Linked DNA regions of Homo sapiens: region 2 is linked to region 1. The links come from fine-mapping of genetic effects on gene expression. Tissue or cell type: whole blood. Region 1 holds a variant in brackets; the other region holds the start of a gene. All regions are shown on one strand. Distances are between the middles of the regions.

Region 1 (8,000 bases):
GTGTGTTTGTAAGGGGTCAAATTTTAAAATGCTGGACTTAGATGGGCCCTTGAACCTGGACTTAGAGGAAAGGCTGCTTTAGTGTTTTTATGGCCTTTATATCAGCCCTTGCATGATCTTCTAAGAAACACACACACACACACACACCCTCTGAGGAAAATGGCTGAGTGCCTCAATCTGCAGATTGGTAAATTGAGGCTCACAGAATTGAAACAGCTGACAGGTTTGACTCACATGAAGGGATTGGAGAAATCATACGGGCTGGACGTGGTGGCTCATGCCTGTAATCCCAACACTTTGGGAAGCAGAGGCGGGAGGATGGACTGAGCCCAGGAGTTCGAGATGAGCCTGGGCAACATAGGGAGATGCTCTAGTTCACCTTGGAAGTAACGACAACTTTCAGTTTACTATGTCTCTATCTAAAAAGAAGTAACAGGTTACTGGAAAGATCCTGGAACCGGGAGAGAGAGGAAAGCTGGGTTCTCTTCCCGTGTCTTCCAACTACTGCCTATGACCAGATCACTTTCCCTGTCTGAGCCTAAATTTCTAATTTCTGAGGAATTCTTGGGATCCATGGTGCCATCACCATCATAACTACTGCCCCCCACCCCCAATCCCGCAGCAGATTAGGTAGGGGCTACTGGCAGAGAAAGCAAGAAGGTGGAGCAGAGGGATGATAAGGCCATCCCAATTCTGTGCCCAGGATTTTGGCCTGGAGAACACAGCCATCAATTCAATCCTGAGCTGAGCAATGGAATGCAGGGCAGGCAGCTCCCACTTTGGGAGACAGAGGTGGGAGGATCACTTGTGCCCAGGAGTTTGAGATCAGCCTGGGCAAAATAAGGAGACCTGCTCTGTACAAAAACAATTAAAAGTCACCCTGGTTTGGTGGTATGTGCCTGTAGTCCCAGCTACTCATGAGGCTGAGGCAGGAGGATTGTCTCCTTTTTAAGAGTTCACCTGCAAAGAGAGAATGCTGATGCTTAGGGGGAAATGGCATCTGTGAGCTAAGGAGCAGGGCCTAGCTAGGGAAACAAGGAGCCTGAATCCTAAAACAGGGAGGTAAAGAGTTCTGAAAGGTGGCATCTAGCAAGATGTAAAATGCTTGGGTTTAAAATGCCAGCTCTCTACATCTTGATCACTCAGAGATGATTTATTGAGTGTCTACTATATGGCAGGCACTGAGCTAAGTCCTGGAGTCCTGGAGTGAATAAGACAGGCATGTCCCTGCTGTCTTGGGGCTTATGTTCTGGTGTGGGGGAATCAAGTGCTGTCCTTAAACCAGACGAGTTTAATGAATCCCAAGGGCTCTGCGGGAAACAGAACAGAACGAGATGGAGTGACTGGCGGGAGCACATCCAACAGGGAGGTGACAGGAGTGACCTCTGAGTTGGGCCTGAAGAATGAGGCGGAGCCAGCCAGGGGGAGAGGGTCAAGCAGAAAAACAGTGAGAGGAAAGCCCTGAGGCTGCCCGTAAATGAGGAGGCCTTCAGCTGCAAGTCACAGAAAACCCCGACTCAAGGTGGCTTCTACGATAAGCACATTTTTATCTCACTGAGCTGGGAGTTCTCAAGTAAAAGGTGGAAAATGGGGAACACAGCACTGCTGCACCACATCATCAGGGCCTGGTTTCCTTCTGTGTCTCTGCCCATCCCAAGGCTGGGTCCCTTCATGGTGCCTGTAGTGCCAGGCACATCCAGACACAACTGTCTAGCGAAACAAAGAAAACTTCTGTATCTTCTAAAAGAGAAGAAGCTTTCCCCAGGAGTCCCCAGTACACTTTTCCTTAGACCACAAGTGACTCACAAGCCCAGCCCGAACTACACAAGTGAGAGAAATGGTATTTTCCATGATTACATTGGGTATCTAATTGATATGGGGTAAGATAACCTATCTGGATCAATGGACGCTTCTATCAAATCAGAGTCCTGTTGGCCAGGAGGGAAAAAGGAAAGAGTGTTTACAAGGCAGCCCACAGGGCCCAGTACAAATAGGAACAAAATGGTGGTTAGAGGGAGGAAGAGAGGGCAAATGTAGAAAGAATCAGGTGTCGGCCAGTCGCAGTAGCTCACACCTGTAATCCCAGCACTTTGGGAGGCCTAGGCAGGCAGATCACCTGAGGTCAGGAGTTCAGGACCAGCCTGGCCAACATGGCGAAACCCCGTCTCTACAAAAATACAAAAAATAGCTGGGCATGATGGCGGGTGAGTGTAATCCCAGCTACTCAGGAGGCTGAGGCGGGAGAATCTCTTGAACCCAGGAGATGGAGGCTGCAGTGAGCCCAGAGCCTGGACAACAGCGAGACTAAAAAAAAAAAGAAAAAGGAGAGGAAGAAAGAAGAAAGAAAGAAAGAAAGAAAGAAAGAAAGAAAGAAAGAAAGAAAGAAAGAAAGAAAGAAAGAAAGAAAGAAGGAAGGAAGGAAGGAAGGAAGGAAGGAAGGAAGGAAGGAAGGAAGGAAGGAAGGAAAGAAAGAAAGAAAGAAAGAAAGAAAGAAAGAAAGAAAGAAAGAAAGAAAGAAAGAATCAGGCATCCTAGGCGGAGGTGAGGTCAGGGAAGTGGGCAGGGGACCACTGATTTGCTTGTGAACAGGCTGCATTACTCATCTGTGAAAAATGAAGCTGATAATAATATATTTCATAAATGTGCCAACAGTACATGATAAGGCTCACCATTGTGTAATGTGCCATCAAGAAAGAATAACAACTGTCAATTAAACTCTGACATGCCATCAATTGTAAAATATACTCTGATTTTTGAGATGTTAAAATGTGAAAAAGAAAACAAAAAGTGTGTGTGGTAGAACCATCGAAATCTGGTGGTAGCAACCTATGAGGCAGAGGCAGAACTGGGATTTCCCTGCAGGATCCCTCTTTCTGTTCTTCCTTTGTTGTTTGATATTTGTGTTTCTTCCAGTATGGTGAAATTGTTTCTGTAGTTTCTTAGGACCATATCTTGAGAGTGGAGCCAAGAGGTTTGACTCACATGATGGGATGGAAAAAGTCACTTGGGCCGGGTGCGGTGGCTCACACCGGTGATCTCAGCACTTTGGGAGACAGAGGTGGGAGGATCACTTGTGCCCAGGAGTTTGAGATCAGCCTGGGCAAAATAAGGAGACCTGCTCTGTACAAAAACAATTAAAAGTCACCCTGGCTTGGTGGCATGTGCCTATAGTCCCACCTACTAATGAGGCTGAGGCAGGAGGATTGTTTGAGCCCAGGAGGTCAAGGCTGCAGTGAGCTATGATTATGCACTACCCTCTAGTCTGGGTGACGGAGTGAAATCCTTTCTAAAAAAAAAAAAAGAAAAGGAAAAGAAAAAGAAAAGGAAAAAAAGGTCACGTGGTATAGCGTGAAAACAACATAAGTTTGAATTCCTCTTGGGCCCCCCAGCTTTGATGGGACTTTGGGCAAGGCTCAAAGTCCCTAAGCCTTCCCTGAGCCTCTTTCCTCTTCTCGCTCTCCTGGTTGCTGTGAGGATTCGCTGAAGTGGTGTGCAGGGGCCTTTTAGCTCCTACTCAACACACAGTAGGTGCTCTATCCGTTCCCTTCCTTGAAAGTGAGGAGAGATTGGAAAACAGCCCCGAGATAAAAATAACCTTTGTCTCAACTCTCCTTCAAAACCCACCTGCCCTAATGAAGCTCCATCTTGCATTTTGCCTTTGAGTCAACAGTTCCTAGAAATGGACACAACTTCTCAGTACTCTGCATGGTGGCTGAATCAGCTCCCACCAATCTATCACATGCAGCCGGACGTACTTGCCATTTCAGTCACACTCGCTAAGTGCTTCCATCTAAACCTCTTGAGGCTACAAGGTACCAAATGTTTTGAATTAATTGGCTTCTATTTTCCTTTCTGTACATGCGCCTCAGTGCCTTTTTAGGGTGAGATTGACTCACAGAGTCCTTCCTGAATTCTGGCAGCCCTGATTCTACTTGGAGTTAATTATCTCTAATATGCTGTACAATTCCCTCTGTACCTTTTATGACATGGAGTTGAGGCATAATTTATCCAAGTCTATCATTGGAGATTTTTTTTTTTTTTTTAGAAAAAAAGAATGATGTGTGTGCCTCGTAAGAAAATCCACTCAGCCCATTAATTGTTTATTCACTGGGTGTTTCTCGAGGACAATCCTCTTTGCCCAGCATTGTGCTATGTCCCTTATAATTCATGACCAAGTGATAGGCATGTCACAAGCCTAGCAGTCAGTATTCTTACTCCCATTTGGCCAGGGAAATACTTAGTTCGGAATGGAGAATGGCTTGCTGTAGTAGTTCTTCTCCATTTGCTCTCTCTGCCATCTCTTTGTGCTGGGGTCCTTGTCCTCTGGGCTTCCTGCTGGGTTCAGCCAATTGAGGCACTAGCAGGAGAAGAGAGAAGTCGAAGTCTTTCTTCCCCATCCTTACCTAGTTAGGTGCCACCTGTCTGCCAGTCGTTGAGTCCCTCCATGAGTGTGATGCCTGATAGAGGGCAAT[G/A]CCACCGTTTCCTCCGTCTGTCCCCTCTGCTCTGAAGGGGTAACAACTCCTCCTCGTTGCTCTTCTTTGCATGCTTCGTCATTCCTGGTTTATTTCCTCATCCTCCCAGCACCTGTGTGGTCCCTTCCCTCTTTTTCTTTTTCTTTTTTTTTCATTTTATAGTAGAGAGATGGGGTTTCGCTCTGTCACCTGGGCTGGAGTACAGTGGTGCGATCATAGCTCACCACAGCCTTGAACTCCTGGGCTCATGTGATCCTCCCACCTCAGCCTCCCAAGTAGCTGGGATGATAGGTGGGAGCCACAGCACACAGCATGTGGTCAGTTCCTTAAAGTCTCTTCACCTGACCCATCTGCAGTGAGTGGCGTTTCCTCCAGGACCCTGACTGACACACTCAATCAAGACCACGCAGCTGATAGCCACACAGCGGGCCTGGGATTCCACATTTGCCACAAGTCCACTCTCTCTTGAGTTCTGCCGTCCCGTGTCTGTTATCCTGAGAACTTGGGGTTTTCTCGGATAAGGAAAAGGAAGGTGTGTTTTATCTTCAAATGTCTTTATATTTTTGATAGGACACTTGGAGGAAATCAGGCTTTTTGAGAATTCAGTGACAGCATATGTGTTTCGCTCCCAAAACTCTATTCAAATTCATCCCATTGAAATCAAACCCCTAGTTCCTTTTGAAAGACTATTGTCCAGCGGTAGCTTCAAAGGCAATAGCAGGAAGTTATATCAACCTGCTAGGGCTGCCATAAACAAAGTACCACAAACTGGGTGGCTGAAAACAATGGAAACGTATTCTCCCACAGCTCTGGAGGCCAGGGTTGGAAAATCATGGTGTCAGCAGGGCCCTGTTCCTCTGAAACTCTGGGCAGATGCTTCCTTGCCTCTCCTTGCTTCCGGTGGTTGGCTGGCGATCTTTGATGTTCCCCGGCCTGCAGCTGCATCACTCCAGCCCCTTCCTCCGGTGTCATATGGTGTTCTTCCCTTATGTGACTTCATGTATGTCCCTTCTCCTCTTCTGGGAAGGCACCAGTCATACTGGATTAACGGCCCACCCTACTCCAGTATGACCTCATCTTAACTAATGACATCTTCAACAGCCCTACTGTCAAAGAAGGTCACACTCCAAGGTATGGGGGTCAGGGCTTCAACACGTCTTTTTGGGTGACACAATTTAACCCATATCAGAGCTGTCACTGAGGACGGTACTGACTTGGGGCAAAGAGGGTCTGATGGCCACTTGGAGACTGGTTTAGCTCCAAGTGACAGTCAGACCCTCCTTGCTCCAAGTCAAAAAAAAGAAAAAAAGATTTAAGAAAAGAAAAAAATCAGGAGCTATGATAAACATTTAAGGGTGGGCAGACCTTTTTTTCTTAATGGCCACAGGCAACATTGTTTTCTGAGCAAAGCCATCTTTATATGAATTTCTCATCTGGAGTGACAGGGATGGGGTGGTGGAGACTTAGAGAAGTGAATGATTGGATAGTTCATCATTTTCAAAGAGCTGAGAGGACCTGTGGAGACATTCAATGTGTCTGTGTGTATTGGTGGCTGGGCAGTGGGGAGCTGGGTAATGAAGCAGATGTTTAAAAAAATTCCCTTTCCTGTCTTTCAGAGCAACATTTCTCAGTCTGCACCAGCTTGTACAATACGCAGGAGTGGGAGACTGCAAGGGTAGTGAGGACAAGAGAATCCCAGGGCAAGGGGAGAAAGGGTCATGGAGGAAAAAAGACTTTGGAGAGGTTCTAGAAAATTGCAAGAATCAGCACCTCTTCCTTCCTCTTTCCTCCCTCCCTTCCTGCCCTCCTTTCATCTATTCGTCTTCCAGACTTCCCCTCACCTCCTTGACTGGCTCCCAATGCATCACATATCATGATCTTGCTAAAGAAAGATTAGGAATTAGGCTGCCTGGAGTCTGCAAATTAAATGATTGAGCCAAACAGAAGTGAGGGCCACCGAGGGGGCATGCGGGAAGGAGACTGTGACAGTATATCGAACATGTCATGTCCAGCAATGACAGGACATTGCCTGAGCTGTCTCCAGTCTGAGCAGGCATTTAATGAACAAATGCAGAAGCACCCCAAGGATCCGAGAGGAAACTGCCACAGGGGTGGAGAGATAAGAAGCCTCAGAGCCCCACTCCGGGTGCTCTTTTCAAGGCTTCTTGTTATAGGAAAAATGTGATTCACATCTTTTTTTGTGGCTGTGAATTATATTAATGAACAGCTATGTGCTCACTGAAGTCACTGTGACCCAGAAGAAATTGTTTCAACTGTATCTGAATTCCTCATATTTAAATTCTCTTTCTCTCTCTTTGGAGAGAGAGACCTGTAAGAGAAATATTCACACAGTGCCAACAAGTACAGAGTAAAGCACACACTTCCCTTCCATCTCTGATTCCTGGTTCCCCAGAGGCAACCTCTATTACTCGTTTTCTTCAATTAATTATCTTCAAAAAGCAAAAAGTCTATGTCTTGTTTGTTTGTAGTGTTGTAACTGTTTCAAATGAAAGTGCTCTAAAGTAACACCAGAGGGTCCGCCACCCCTGCACCACCAAAATAAAACTTGTTTCTCAGGGGAGTAAGTTTTTCTCTACTGGGTCATATCACCTCAAAGTGAACAAGCAGGGCTAGAACACATGAGCAATTAAACCTGGAAATACCCTGTGAGGTGGGTGTTGTTACTCTCATCTGTAGGCATAGTTATGCCATTTTACTGATGAGGAAACTGAGTTCCAAAGACTAAGCAATTTACCTAAGGTCATAAGAAAGGCAAAGTCTGACCATAGGTCTGGTGGACTCTCTTCAGCGCATTGAGCCGCCTTCTAGTGTTTTCCAAGACTATTGGTCTATTTCATGGCCAATGATTCCCAAATAAATGAATAAATAAATGATTAAATCAGGCTGGACGTGGTGGCTCATGCCTGTTATCCCAGCACTTTGGGAAGCTGAGGCGGGTGGATCACTTGAGGTCAGGGTTCCAGACCAACCTGGCCAACATGGCAAAACCCTGTCTCTACAAAAAAAATACAAAAAAAAAATACAAAAAAAAAATTAGCCGGGCATGGTGGCGAGTGCCTGTAGTTCTAGCTACTAGGGAGGCTGAGACAGGAAAATTGCTTGAACCCAGGAGGTGGAGGTCGCAATGAGCTGAGATTGCATCACTGCACTCCAGCCACCATCTCTAAATAAATAAATAAATAATTGAATACATTGATCCCTAACAAATTTTTATTAAGCACCTATTATGTATCCTACTAGGTGATTTAGGAGGATATACAAGTAAGGGATGGTGCATATAAAGATGGCTGCACATTTTTGCCTCTCCTTTCACGAAGGAGAGGAGTCTATTTTGAATCTGAACTGGCCCTCTTGCTTTGCTTTGACCAAAAGAATGCAACAGAAGTGCTTCTGTGTAACTCTCAAGGTTGGGCCATAGGAGATCTACAGCTTTCATTTTCACACCCTTTGAATATTCCCTTTTAGAATCCAGCTGCACATGCCACATAGAAAGACCACAGGGAGAAC
Region 2 (8,000 bases), 35 kb before region 1:
CTTATCTTTGCATTAAATTTTCTTTAAATTTATGTTCAAAGGAATATCAAAGGCAACTTTTTAAAAATAGACTTCATGGGATTGTCAATGTCTTAAACAGCCTTTTTACTTGACCACTAAAGCACAGTAATTGATCTTTGGTTTTAACAACTGAAACCCTTTAAAGCAAATGCCAACAGCTTTTTGATAGGCAAAAAAAAAAAAAAATCGTTTTTAGAAGTCGAAAACTAAATATACCCACATATTTTAAGATGCACTGCACCTGAATCCTTAGGAAAGGAATGACATAGGGTTCTCTTAGCAAACTTCCCCTCCCTCTCAGTCAATTACTAATTAAAACAGATAATTCTGCTAGGGCTAACATCGTATTTGGGAACAGTGCAATGATTCTATAATCTGTTTCAGCCTTTGCAGAAATATTTCTAAAGTAACCCTCTAGCTGTAGCACATGTGTACGTGCACACATGTATGTATACATATTTTCAATCCTTGGGTTTGTTTTTTTTTTTAACTTAGAATTTGTACTCTGACCAGCTGTGTACCCTTGGCTAAGTTATTATATATTTCTCATATTCAATTTCTGCATCTGTAAAATGGGGATAATAACAGAACTCATCTTGTGAGGTTGTTGGGAAAACTAGATTCAATGCTAGATTCTTACCCCTTATAAATTTCCTAAACACATATAATCATACCCTCAAAGTATATACATTTAGTGGAGCATCTGACGTTCAACCACCTATGAAATTCCCTTTATCTAGTTCATATCAACCTAACTTGCTGCTCATTAATTCAAAAACATCAATGACTCTTGCCAGAATAAAGATATTCTGGTAGCAAGAAAGACAAATGATCTTTGCCTGGATCTATTTTTAGGAATGGTTTAATTATCTACATCTTCAATGTTAACATTGGAAAATAAACAAACGGGTGAAAGGCATAAAGAGTCACTCTGAGATGAACAGTTTCACAGTGTTCAAAAATAAATGGGGATGAAGAAAACATTTAGATCATTTCTCTCACTAGATAGTCCTTACTGATGAAAGGTAGGCCAAAATTTGCAGAGGTTTAAGAGGAATTGCCAAGTCCATCAATTCAGGCTGTTCAGACCTACAAGGTTCAGAGAGTTTCCAGGTTTAAAATGCAACCAACCAGTGAGAAAACTGTAATTCAATAGCTGGTTTTCAGTGAATCACTACCTTATAGTGTCAAAAGAAATTTGTTTAGTTATATAGTTACTTCAGAAAACATTCAATAGTTTCTGCAATGAAATATATTTATATCTATATATTATTTATTCTCATCTAAATAGGGAAAAAACTGACCCTGATTCTCATGTCAGGCAAGAAAGGTATTATAGTTAATAATTACTACATCACCAGCTACCAGGTATTCATAATTATCTATGACAAGATTAAGGCTACAATTTAGAAAACTGCCAAAGAAACAGCTGAATATTTTGTTCCAATTACACTCCTGCTAAAATAAAGTCTGGTTATTGATTCATTTTCTCTCTAAGAAAAGCTCTGATGTGAATACGGGCACTTCAAACTCTAGTTACATAGATATTACACCATGCTATTTCCTTATTCATCCTAATCTATTAATGGAACATAATCTTACCGGAAAAGGAAAAATGTTGTCAGCCCTGTTCAAGCTATCTTCCATCCAGGATTTAGGTGCAAAGGCAGAGCTGGGGCGAGCATACTTCTGGAGCTGAATATGATTGCTTGCAAAATTTTTCTTCAAAGGCGAGATGGAGTTCAGGGGCGTTATTCCACCATTCAGCCCTCTGCGGTGATCTCGGCCTTGGGAACCTCCCCAGCCACCATATCCACCACCGCCCGGGCTCCAGGAAGAGGAGGGTGTTGGTGACGGACTCTGGTAGCTGCTCCACGGAGAGGGGGGTTTGTTAAGATTATTCGCCAAATGAGGCAGCTGGTTAAAAGCAGCATTTCTATGTGTGAAGGGTGGGGGATGGGGACTGGCAGGAGACCTCCTTTGCTGCTGATGCTGGCTGTGATGATGCTGGAAATGAGGGTGATGTGGGTGGTGCTGTGAGAGAGGCCCGATCTGAGGAGAGAAGCTGCCTCCAAAGCCAGGGCTGACATGATGGGGGAAATTTTGAAACAACAGAGCACCGTTATTAGCCGAAGCAGCAGGGACCCCTCCCTGGTGAAAGAAACTTGCATCTTCATTGATTATTGTAGAGGAGGAAGGCGCTATCGCTGCTGACCAGTTACTGAAACCAGTAAGAGACGATGCGCTAGATGTCAAGGGTTGGGTTGAAGTACCTAGCCCAGTGGCTTCTTGATAATCAAACCCTGTCAACACTGGAGATTCGATCCTTATTTTCTCCTTCCCATTGCCATTTTCCGAAGAATTGTCCCCTTGATTTTCTTCTGATTTTGCCTTCTCTGTTTCAGGCAGTATTCCAGCTTCCTGACCTGGACTTGGGGAAAGCTGCTGCTTTTCTAAGGGGTCTTGCTGTTCCTGTTGCTGACTTTTTGCTTTTTCTGACCCCAAGATCTCATCCTGAATGTTATGGGTAGCTGGAGCAGGAAAAAGCCAAGCTGACCCAGCACTGCTGCCATTGGCAGCTGTGTTATTATTTATAAAAGCAGCAGGGCTGGGGGTGGCATTTTGGTGATGGTGTGGAGGCTGCAGATGTGGATGGAATCTGACTGGAAAAGCAGATTTATTCCCAGTATTGCTTTGCACTAGCACTCCAAACCCGTAATCCCCCATTTATTATCTTTAGGAGCAGAATCTCACAATAAAAAATGACAACCTGATGTCTCACGCCTTTTTTTTCCTCTACCCCAAATTTAAGTTGTTTGCTTGCTTGCTTGAAATGTCTTATTTATAGCTAGCTCAAAGATCGCAGCTTATCACCTTAAATTGTTCTGATTTGGAATTCTGGTCTCTGAAAGAAAAAACAACTCTTAAAAAAATCTCTTAAAACATTGACTTGGATCCAATTGGGCTTATTTTTAGGAGGGAATAAAAATGAAGAGGGTAAAAATCAAGTCTTTGGTTAGTAAAATAGGCGCTTTCTTTTTCCAAAGGAAAATGTACATGAATGACAAAAACAGAGCTTCTCAAGCATCTATGGATGTAGAAGAATAAGCCTTGCGCGGAGTAAAAATATAGATATATATAATTTAACAATCACATATGGTTTTCCTCAGCAGTTTAGATTCACTCACATAAAAATTAGAATAGGACTAAGAGGGGAATACGTTCTTTTCTTGGCAGCTTGGTTAAAAAAAAATCAGGAATAATTTAAGAACATTATATATTATATATTTATATATATAGATTATATTAGGTTATCTGGGGTGGGAAGTGAATTCCTGGTTTCGGGAGAGGAAATCAGCATTGACTAATGGAAAGATGATTGCAGGGAGGTTTCTGCTGTTCCTGGTCCTGTTTTCTGCTCTTTCGCAGGGTGCAGTTTTGGCCTCTGGGGCTGTTCCTGAGGCTCCGGGTGCAGATCTTGCTGCGGTCGCTGTTCCTGGGCTCCCCGCGGCTTCCTCTCCCCCATGAAAGGGGTTGGAAACACCCGTTTCTCCCTCTTGCGGGGGTCGCGATCAGGAGGGATTAGCGAGACTCGACGAGGGTGAGCGGGCGGCCTGGGGGTGCGGGGACCGAGGGGGCGACCTGGAAGGTCCTGCGGTTTCTGCCTCTTCCCCTCTCTGCGGCTCCGGGGTTTTTTTCCCTCATGGGACCCAGGGGCGGTTTGTTCAGTTCCCTCAGTTCGATTCTCCGCAGAGAGGGAAAAAAGAGGAAAAAAAGGAAAAACCCACTACCGTAGTTATTTTAAAGGAGAAGGGCCTCCCCCCTCGGCTTTCTCTCTCTTTTCCCCCAGAATTTTTTTTTAAACTATAATTTAGAAGGCTTTTGTTTCTCCTCACGGTTGCTGGGCCGTCGCCGCCGTCGCCGCTTTACCCTGGTCCCGCAGTCCCCGCTGTCGTTGTTGAGGACTCCTCCTGGTTCTTCTTTTTCTTTCCTTCTTCCTCCTCTTCCTCCTCTGCTGTCGCCGCTGCTGCCGCCGCCGCCGCCGCCACCGCCTCCCGGTGCCCGGGTCCCGCAGCCGCGGCTGAGTCCTTCTCCTCAGGACCGAGCCGAGTGAAATGACAACCAGCTGGAAAGACCCAGAGACACTTCCGGTTCGAAGAGGGAGGGGTGGGGGTAGCACTCATTCCCCACCTACCTGCCGGAAGACCAATCATCTGTTAGAACTCAGGCGAGGCCACGCCCCCTCGCTTCAGAGCTACTCCCAGGAAGGTCGAAAAGTTACCTCCAGAGACGCCTCTTCCGTCTGCGCCTCGCCTAGTGAGGCCCGGCGCCTGGAACCCGCTTCCCCCACCCAGAGTGAGCGCAGCAGGTCGCCATCTTTTGTGTGGGCAAGGGACTCCTTTGATATTTCTCTTCCCTAACTGGGCTTTGCAGGAGGAGCAATAGGGACGTGTCAAGGAGAACGGATTCCTCGCTCACGAAGGCATACGGTCAAGGTGTTGGAGATCGAAGTGGCGGCCCGTGAAACCGCGGATGAATGAGAAGGGTGCCCACAGTAAAGGTGGTGCTCCAAGCATCACGTGCTCTGGCCCGAGCTCCGCCCCAGAGGGATCTGGAAGGGGAGGCGGGTCTTGCCAGCAGCTGTGCGGTGCCTAGAACTGCGTTTGCCCTTGCCCAGAATGTAGACCTCACGAGGGACTCTCCCTTAACCTTCCATTCGCTCACCCGCACCTCCCACTCTCCCATTCTGCTAGGCTCGCATCTGGTGCAGTCTCCCAGGTGCAGAGATGCAGCTGAGGCGTCTGTGGCTATGCCCCCGTATCATCCCGATCTAGTACACCTTACACGCAATACCAGAGGGAAAATTCCAAAACTAAAATTTTATCTTGACCCTCACATGCTCCGATTTCTTCTATGGTTGCCCATTATTTCGAAGATAAAGGCCAAACTTGTTAGTCTGGTATTCAAGCCTTTCTACCTAATGGGTGGTATATCTTAGTGCCTCTTCCCCCTCCAAACACACTCTCAATGCCTTTTTACATGTCCTTTCCACTCTTCTCCTTTGGTAAATTCCTATTTATTTCTAGGAATCAGTTCAAAAGCCACCAACAGCATCTTCTGAATTCTCTCTTATAAGCGTCCACGGCCCTGTGTACCTCTCGTGCTTGTTTCTCACACTATATTGTGATGGTTTATGTCTTCCAGACCTGTGCTGGACCGTGGGCTCTTTCAGGAGCAGACATTGTAGATAGGAGACATCAGTGAATGAATCCTGAAAACGTGAATGAACAAACCAGCAACAATGAAGTCTTCCCTGAGTGACAGCCCCCCAACCCACTGCCACCCCTTCCACCCGTCACCCACCCCCCACCCCTCACTCCTGTTTCCAAGTCTGAATTAATTATTTCCTTCCTTTTGCCATTTGGTTTGGAGCTCACATATCAGACTTTTCATTATGTTTGGTACTCAAGGGCTTTAATGTCCTGTTTATCTTTGTACATTCCCAACGCTATGACCACCATCAGGGCTTAGGATAATGCTTTGCTCTCAGCACAGCTTTAAATATGTTAAATAAGTGAGTATTTTCCTTTAGCAGGAAGAAAAATGAACAAAGAAATCAGGGTAGAGCCAGAAGTAACTGGCACAACTAGAGGGAAAAAAAAGATACCAAGATTAATGAAAAATAGTATGAACAAAGGTGGCTTCCATTTCATTTCCATAGCCTTCCTCTAATGGTCTCAACTTCTGCCTCAGTCTGTCAATCCTCCATCACTTCCGTGTAGAACACCTGAGGGCCTTCAATCGGTGATTTTATTCTCTTTCATTGTGCCATGAGCATGAGTCTTGTCTCTGTAACTCTACTATGGATTCTTTGAGCATAGAGATTGGGTCTTACCTGCTGTTTATTCCCTACAACTGGACATGCCTGGAAACTTAGCTGGTTCCGTCAGGTGTCTTTTCCGCCAGAATGGTTTCCTTGACTGGCCCTCTCTCTAATGTCTTGTAGATTGCTCTCTTTTAATTACTGCTGGTTGTCAGTGGGTTAGTTTCTTAAGGGCAGAGGTTGTGTCTGATTTATCTTTATGTCCCCAGTGGCCAGAAGAGGGTCTGGCACAGAGCAGACTCAAAACTCAGAACACATTTATTGAATGAACAAATGAATGTTCCATGCCCAGAAGATGGTTTAGGGTCCCTCAGAGCTACTAATTATCAGTGGCTAAAATGGCAGCCATGACTTGGAAAAAAGAGCACCTTTGGAACCAAACAGCCCTGAATTTGAATCCCAGCTCTGCTGCTTCCTAGCTGTGCAAAACTGGGCATCACCTCTATAAGCCCTTGGTTCCTTCTAGATAAAATGTGAATGATATTTCCTCTCTTGCTAAGTTTGTAAATTACATGGGATACATGTGAAGTGCTGGACTCCTAAAAAGTTTTATTAGTCCATTTTCACACTGCTATAAAGAAATGCCCAAGACTGGGTAATTTATAAAGGAAAGAGGTTTAATTGACTCACAGTTCCACGTGACTGGGGAAGCCTCAGGAAACTTACAATCATGCCGGAAGGCGAAGGGGAAGCAAGCACTTTCTTCACAAGGCGGCAGGAGAGACCAGAGTGAAAGAAGAACTGTCAAACACTTATAAAACCATCAGAGCTCATGAGAACTCACTATCAGGAGAACAGCATGGGGAAACTGCCCCCTTGATCCAATCACCTCCCTCTGTCTACACATAAGGATTACAATTTGAGATAAGAGTTGGGTGGGGACACAGAGCCAAACCATATCAGAGGTGATCAAAAATGTCACTTCCTTTGTAACACATTAAATGCAGGGAATTCCTTCACAAGTGTCTTTTGCCTAGAAGCAGCTGTGTGCACAAGGGAATCCAGGAACTTGTCTTGGTTGATAAAAGGTGGAGACGCCCAGGGCCACAGTCAGGTGCTGCCAAGTCGGGCTAATCTTTTAAGGCTAAGTCAGGTGTGGGCAGTAGATTGGGATGGTTTGCAGCTAGGATGATCACTAAGACATCAGACTCTTGCTTAGGGACTGGAAGTATGGAAGAAGGAAGGGGGAAATCTATTATTTTCTTTTCTTTTTTCTTTTTTTTTTTTGGCATCAGTTGCCTACTCAGGAACCCAGGATACCCAGAGCCCAGGGCTGCGCTCCTTGAAAACATTCTGGCCTCAGAAACTTCCCATGGTAACCATGACAACAATTCAGCAGCTCCATTTAGGATCTCCAAAAGGATCTACAGATGTAGGTGAGTGCTGGCTTGAGCACTCTGCTGGCAGAAGAGAGCCTTTTTCATGAAGTGTGCTCACCAGAAAGTTTTTGGGTTGCAGGGGAAGCAAGTTCTGCCCAAACATTAAGGTGCTACTAGTTAAAAAAAAAAAAAAATTAAAAAGCTCTATCCCTGTCTAGTACAATGAGGGCTAACACACCTTCAGAGAAGTTGTAGGCTGGGGAATGCCTGTAACCTGGTAGCTACTGCCCAGCCCCCTCTGGGGTTTGAGGTCAACCACACCCAGAACCTAGAGCCTTCCAGGAAGCAGGGCATTAATATCTCCTTCACCAGCCTCTTTTAAAGCTCGGCAAGCAGTAGAAATCTCACCCCATAATCACACAAGGTGAACTCTGCCCCAGTCCAGCTCTAATGTCTCCCACCACTTTCCTTGAAGCATGCATTGTCAGCCTTCTCCCAATAGCCCACACCCGAGCTCCCCAGAGGCTTGTCTAATGACCAAAAATCAGGACCACTACCCAAGGCTGCCCTGGTTGTGCACTGTGCAACTTCATAAGGCACCACAGACTAGTATGTGAATGCATCCAATGGAGTTGTACAAGGCAGCAGCCCTGTTTCAGTTCTTTTTTTCTAAGACACAGGGGCACATTATACAAATATGACACACATACAAAAAAAGCTCATTACATGAGCCATGCTTATTGCCTGCAGAAATATTTAAAGCACTTGATCCTTTT

Evidence for each region. PIP is the estimated chance that this variant, and not a neighbour inherited with it, causes the effect.
Region 2: CPEB4 starts here. The variant in region 1 is fine-mapped to the expression of CPEB4 in whole blood (INTERVAL, PIP above 0.99).

Annotation. Positions count from the first base shown.
Region 1 is chr5:173,849,312-173,857,311 of GRCh38, reverse strand. No RefSeq gene overlaps it. Among named protein-coding and RNA genes, the nearest start is that of CPEB4, 35 kb to the left of the region's middle. RefSeq lists an enhancer at 1,332-1,626 and cis regulatory regions at 1,210-1,779, 3,421-3,961. The variant G/A (reference allele first, on the strand shown) is at 4,473.
Region 2 is chr5:173,884,482-173,892,481 of GRCh38, reverse strand. It overlaps CPEB4 (cytoplasmic polyadenylation element binding protein 4), which reads right to left and starts at 4,133. Exons shown (of 10, transcript NM_030627.4): 1 at 1,624-4,133. The coding sequence starts at 2,748. RefSeq lists a silencer at 1,562-1,856 and enhancers at 1,361-1,860, 1,861-2,362, 4,387-4,626, 7,593-7,842.